Homo sapiens: one gene and its partner. The protein of the gene in region 1 purifies or fractionates together with the protein of each later gene. This does not show direct contact. Each region holds a gene or a part of one and is shown in the gene's direction. Other genes may lie near its edges.

The links. The genes of interacting proteins can lie anywhere in the genome.
Region 2: the proteins of TCP11L2 (region 1) and LMO7 purify together in Homo sapiens (affinity purification with mass spectrometry; one large-scale study listed by BioGRID and IntAct). This does not show direct contact.

What each region holds. Positions count from the first base shown.
Region 1 is NC_000012.12:106,309,233-106,312,732, forward strand, and holds part of TCP11L2 (T-complex protein 11-like protein 2), read left to right. Parts: intron 1-1,808; 5' UTR 1,809-1,843; coding exon 1,844-2,000; intron 2,001-3,060; exon of another isoform or gene 3,061-3,202; intron 3,203-3,500. UniProt on the Homo sapiens protein: Promotes the migration of muscle-derived satellite cells (MDSCs) during differentiation throught interaction with FMNL2 and therefore may participate in microfilament assembly.
Region 2 is NC_000013.11:75,639,330-75,642,829, forward strand, and holds part of LMO7 (LIM domain only protein 7), read left to right. Parts: intron 1-3,500.

The sequences.
Region 1 (3,500 bases):
CCCCTGAGCAGATTGGAGTTTAAGCTCAGGTAGAATTTAGTCTTCATGAGTTAGAGGAGGCTGTTTCACCACTGAGGATGCAAGGGCTCAAGAATCTTATAGCCAGTGTTCATGGCTTTGGGATTCTGGGATAAGGTGAGTGTCTCCACTCCACTCCTTGCCCTTCAGCCTGCACAAGTGGACTCTAGTGGTTTTCTGCTTGCAAAAGTGGTGGGCTCAGCAAGGATACATTTCTGTGGCAGGATTGAAGACGGTTGTTTAGGTGAGGCAAGGCGCAAATGACCTTAGACCTTTCACCCTTATTAGATCCCTCTCAGACTCATCCTTGTCCCCATCACCATCCAAGGAATTAAAAAAATTACTCTTTTTCTCTCAACAAAGGCTAGTGCCCCTTCTCCCGCTCTGCTAATCCTGAGCCTGCCTCTCCTTTCTTGTGTTTTCTCAACAATGCCTTATTCCCCCTTTTCCCATCTAGTAGCATTCAGTACACAGTTTTAGGTAGCTGGACTTGAGAACCACAAGAATAGGGCATTGTCTTTGTTTGGTTACTTTCCCCGGTGCTCAGTGCTCAAGTAGGCACTTGTTGAATATTAATGGAATCATTGAAGAAACTGCAGGCATTTTCAGACATACTATACATAGTTGTGGTTTCCCATTCTGGCCGCTTTAAAAGCACTGCATCCCTCATTGCATGGGCTGGTTTAGGTTTAAAAGGATTCAGTGAACTCTTCCTCTCATTATTGTCCATCCAGGATTTGAGGTGCCTTTCTCCTTGAGCCCGGGTTTCCCCTTCAGTGTCAGGTGATACCATATTCACATCAAGGTCAGCTCCCTCACGGGCCTGGCTGGTGCTCCTGGGACCAAGGCCTGGTCATCCTGTGTGCCTGTGATCTGCTTTCTGGGTAGTGTCCAAACCTGACGGCCCTTCCCTGGAAGGATTCTCATGTCCCAGAAACACTGGACATAGACACCAAGGGACTGGTTTTATCATGTAGTAAATCCCCTTATCCCTCTGAGTCTGTTCCCCCACTTGTGAGTCAGGATCCTACATGCTTGTGCACTCATAGGGTTGTGATGGGTACTTTGTAAATTGTCAAATCCTAACCATATATCAGGTCTTAATCTTCATATCACAGCAGTTCATGTGGAAATGGAGGGGGAAGAAGCTAAAGACTTGCCAGCCAGAGGTTTCATGCGGTCTTCCCCTTTCCCCAGGAGGTTCACAGAAAGCGTAAAGAGGCTGATTTCACAGCTATTTTATCTGAAACAAAGCAATAGGAGCAATAATAGCAGCTAACATTTGAGTACTGTGCCAAGCTCTTTAAGATGAATTCTATTCAATCTTCTGGCAACCCAATGAGAGGTTAGTCTTTCAGTCCAGTTTCACTATGAGGTAGGTAGTTAAGTGACCTTCCCAAGGTCTCATGGCAAAAGGCAGAACAGAACGAGAGATCTGACCCAAGTCCCACACTCCCGCCTTCTCATGTTTCAGCAACCCAGGAGGAGAGAGCATGTGTCCTGCATCTTTTTAAAAAGGACCTGCCATTACTTAGAGCTTCACATTTATAGTGGGTGTGTCCTGAGTAAGCTCACACCTATGGCTGTGGAATCCCTTTTCAGAAAGGCAATCTCGATGACCTAGTGATCTGGCCTAGTCCGGCCAAGGTGCTGGGGGAAGGATGAGGTCATCTGGGGGCCTTTCCAACACAGTGACACTTGTGGGGACAGTTGTCTACACTGGAAGAAGCATTGGTGGTGCCTGTGGAAGTACCACAGAACATTGACGCAGGGTCTGTTTGTCTGTGCAGGTGCTACCTTTTTACCCACACTTAAGTGACGCAAAATGCCCTTCAATGGCGAGAAGCAGTGTGTGGGAGAGGACCAGCCAAGCGATTCTGATTCTTCCCGGTTTTCCGAAAGCATGGCTTCGCTCAGTGACTATGAATGCTCCAGGCAGAGCTTTGCAAGTGACTCCTCCAGCAAATCCAGCTCTCCTGCTTGTGAGCCGATGGGGGAGCAGGGGTTGTGGGTGGCAGGGGTACTTCTAGATATGTGTTGGATTTGAAAACTCAGAAACGCCTGAGAGCAACAGACTTCCCCTCCTTTCTAGATGCACCAGAATAGCACTGCAGAGGCACTGCAGCTTTCCGGGACACATTCTCAGAAATAGCCACTAAAGTTTACAACCTGCTGATTTTTATTTTGATCACTGCTTCCGATCTGTTTCGGTCTGATGATAAGTCAGGACTTCAACCCCATCTGTCTTTTCTCCCAAACAGCAGAAAGCCATTCCTTGAGATTACTTCTTAGATCTCCACTGAAGGATAAATTCAAATTGGTCTTTTCTGATTATTCCTGATTTACATTGAAGGAAACTGGCCTTCATTGAAAGGTCAGGAAGGAAGTGAAATAATCTAAAGGGTTTCATGTTGATTTCAAAAAAATATTGTGCAAATCACCCCAGGAAGGTACCCACAAGGAGAATTACTACATTAGGGGTGTGAGAAAGAGTTAAAAGAGAGGCCACAGCAAAAGGAGATATCTTTTTCCCGTTTTTGCATGTAGAAACTAGAGATGGGTAAAGCAGATGTGTTTGCCTTTTTTTTTTTAATTGGCACTTTATTTAGTAAATATAACAGCTTTAACTGGCAAAGCAAATGCAGGAAAAAGCAACTAATGTTTAATATGCTGAACTGTCCACTTCTTACAAATTGCTTCATTTGTATTTTAAATTTTTACATTCTCATTTTTTAAAACTTAGAAGATACATAAGAATAGAGAAAAGAAAACATTGCCTATGATATCACTCAAAGACGACAGCTGGCAGTGCTTTGCCGTATCTTTATCCTTCACATAGACATATGTGTGTATATGTGTGTGGACTCTTCTTGCTTAGTATTATAACTAAAACATTTACTCATGATTACATGTTTTTGAAACATTGGTTTTATGAATACTTATTACTTTACCAAGTGAATGTACGGTAAAATTAACCATTGATTAATCACTGGACATTTAGTTTCCATTTTTTTTTTTTTTTTTTTTTGCTGTTATAAATAGTGCTTTATGAACATCTTACTGCATGAAGCCTTTCTGGAAAGACTTTTGGATATCACTGGATTATTGGACCAAAGTATATAGACATTTTTAAGGAGAATCTTGAGTCAGACCTGGCAAAAGAAATTAACAGCAGCCACCCCAGGTTTCTGTGCCTTTTCTCACTCTTTATACTGTATGTGGTGTTGTTGCATCTGACACCAGGGTACCTAGGCATCCTGAAGAAGGGTTTTACCAATTCTGTGTATCACCTTTCTCTTCTTCCTCCTCTTTCCCTGATCCTCCTCCTCATCTTCTCCTAAAAATTAGGTAGCCAGGCGCAGTGGCTCACACCTGTAATCCCAGCACTTTGAGAGGCTGAGGCAGGCAAATCACCTGAGGTCAGGAGTTCAAGACCACCTGGCCAACATGGTGAAACCCCATCTCTACTAAAAATACAAAAA
Region 2 (3,500 bases), on another chromosome or scaffold:
GGTGTGTCTACTCATGCTAATTTTGCAATTCAAAGCAAATGTAGGAAAGCTACCCTTTAAGATCGCTCAACATAATGATATTGGATTATTACATAGTTGGAAAGGCTGTTTGATACATTAATAATGTAGCAGGGCTGGTTTATGATTAAACACTGGTTTAAAACCAAGTAATGGTTTCAAGGCAAAGGCAGAGGAGAAGCTTGATTCTAGCAAGGCTACGCAGTGGCTGATGAAGTGGTGGAAAATACAGCCTGGACTCTAATTTTAGGCCTCTTCTGCAGTACCTTTTAATTTTCTATGCCTAATAGTTGCCTTTGTCTCTCTGTTGTGGGTCATCCGAAAGCCATGTGGTAAACAGACAAAATACTAATGAGATTGAAACTGGGGTATGTAGCACTTTGCATTGGTTGGTCAGTTTTTTAGTCTGTAAGTTAATGTTGCTCTCTAGATTGAGGTTCAAATACAATAGTAATTTTTATGGCTGGAGCAGAACAGGCTAACTTAATTCACCACCTTTCTGCTCACCTGCCCTTCCTGTTATCTCTGGATTGGATTTTTTCAGTATTGCTGTCACCCTGTAAGGGATGCCAACCTGAGCTCATTGCCAAGTCTGGCACTAGAATATGAGTCCTTCCTCACTTCTAATTGGTCTGTTTCTCCACCTGCCCCAAGTTTTATCCTTCGGGGATGTGCTGTTCACCACCTTTTAACTTTTTTGCCTTTGGTGCTAATGGAAGTATTTTTAGTAATTATATATAATTTCAATCAACAGATATTAAGACACTATGGTAAATATTTGTTAAAAATTGTAGTGTTACAAAGCAATTCTTATGCTAGCTGCAGCAGCTAGCATAAGAATTGCTTTGTAATACAATTTTTAACAAAGATTTACCATAGTGATTACAGGTGTGAGCCACCGCACCTGGCCTGGGCTCTGCTATTTAAATCCTGTAGGTCTCAGTTTTTTCCTCTTAATCTCCCCTGGTAGTTGTACCAGTTAAATGGATGCTGATGGTAGAGCAACAAATGCTCCCTAATCCATTGCTTGTGTTTCTCCTTGCACAGAATGCAGTTTTGTCACCTCCATGTTTTCGTATGAATGGAATACTTGTTATTCCTTGTAACCTAGTGAACACCTCTTCATTCTTCCATACTTGAGCTAAAATCAACCTTTATGTGAAGCCTTCCCAAAATCGCCAAACCTCCAGCCCCACCCATTCCTTTCTCTCCTGTCTTACATAAATCTCTCTTTTTGCATTGTGTGGTTCTATTCGTTTTTCTATATTAGTCTATGAGCTAACTGAGGGCAGGAATCGTATCTTATTTATTGCTTGAGTGTTTGGCATGGTGCCTGCTAAATGCTTGTTGAATAAAAGTACAAATAAAGTTATAGCTTTAACAACATTAAAAAATAGGATTTTAAGGACCAGAACTCATTTCTTCTTCCAGCAGAAACTTGCTTCAGTGTCTTAAGCTTTATTGGTTGCAGTTGTTTGGTTGGAACCTGCTACAGGATGTGTCTTCATCTGCATGCCAGTGTGTACTTGTTTATTTACTTAGCATTTCCTCTTCTGCCTCAACCCTCTTCCCGAGTCACCTTACTCTACTGCCGTCCACTTGATGATTTCCCTCATGGGGACTTACATTTAGTCATCTCAAAAATACCTACTATGTGCCTACTGTGTGCCAGAAACTTGACGGGTTTATAGATTCAGTCACCAAATTCTTAGCCCTTACCTGGACCTTCAAAGAGAGGCAGCCTCCATGAAAAGCAGATGTGCAGACAAACCCAGCAGTGCCATCAGGTACTGAAGTTCATCCGGTGCATCGTGATGGCATTGAGGAGGCAGCCTGAGTCCACCTGGTCAGTCAGGGCAAGCACACAGAGAAGGCAGCATTTGAGCCGAGGCTGCAGTGGGGTTAACCCATCTGCCCACTAGGCTGGAACATTTTGGCCTTTTTTAACTTGTCGTGTGTGAAATCTTGAAGTTGCAGACAGCATAGCTTCCAGAAGTTGCTCAGAGTAATTTATTCTTACTGAAGTACCTTACTGAGGTAACGTTTTACCTGCAGTGAAATGCACTGATTTTAAGTATACCATTGTAGGAGTTTTGTCAGACCTATATGCCCAAGTCACCAGAACCCAATCAAGATACAGAATGCTTTTTATCACTCAAGAGAGTTCCTTCCAGAGAGCACATTAATCTCCATTTCTTTGGTAAGCATCCACTCTTTGATTTCTAGTACTATGGATTTCTCAAGGTAGGTTTGAATGGCCAAGAAATGTCTTAATGCCTATTTGTTTCTTTTTTCCTCTCACTTTTTCTTTTACTTTTGTTTTCTGAGACAGGAACTCACTCTGTTGCCCAGGCTGGAGTGCAGTGCTGTGATCTTGGCTCACTGCAACCTTCGCCTCCTGGATTTAAGTGATTCTCCTGTCTCAGCCTCCCGAGTAGCTGGGAGTGTACCACCATGCCTGGCTAACTTTTGTATTTCTTTTTTTTTTTTTTGGTAGAGACAGGGTTTCACTGTATTGCTCAGGCTGGTCTCAAACTCCTGGCCTCAAGTGATCTGCCAGCCTTGGCCTCCTAAAGTGCTGGGATTACAGGGCGTGAGCCACCACACCCGGCCCCATTTTTTTCTTTATGCAGTGTTTTATAATTTCTTGAACACAGCATCTTTATATGGGAAATAAGAAAGGATCCTAGAAAAGAGAGGGGTGGCAAGAGATGAGGGAATTAATGAAGTCCTCTTGGGAAGGAACTGATTTACACAAATAGGAACCAGGGCAGGAATGCCGTTAGAATAGCCTGACTCCAGGAAGTGTAAACAGATATGTCAAAGTATTTCCTGAGGAACTGGGAGGGTTCCAGTGCAGTGTCAATCATTCTGGATTCTTCCAACGTACTGATGCACTGAAAGCTAGAAATGGACTTCTTTCATAAAGTGAGGAAAAATACAAAGAACTTGTACCTTTAGTAAAACAGGGTGTCAGCCAGACATGGTGGCTCATGCCTGTAATCCCAGCACTTTGGGAGGCTAAGGAGGGAGGATGGCTTGAGGCCAGGAATTTAAGACCAGCCTAGTCAACATAGCAAGACCCCATCTCTACCAAAAAAAAAAAAAAAAAAAAAAAGGTGGCACACACCTGCATTCTTGGCTGCTTGGGAGGCTGAGGTGGGAGGATCGCCTGAGTCTGGGCAGTTGAGGTTGTGGTGAGCCGTAACTGTGCCACTGCACTCCAGCCTGGGTGACAGAGTAAGACTCTATCTTTAAAAAGTAAATAAATAAATAAATAAATAGAGTATTCTTGAACCAGTTAGAGAAGTGGACCCACTGGGTGAAAAAAACGGTTCTTGATACACATTATAAAGATACCCTCTAAAACCTTTGTGGCAGTTTGCAGAATGAGCAGGGGTTGAGGGCACCATTTTCTCCACATTCTGGCCCAAATTAGAAATTGTTATTTGTATTTTCCCTCTAAATGAACAGATGAAAGA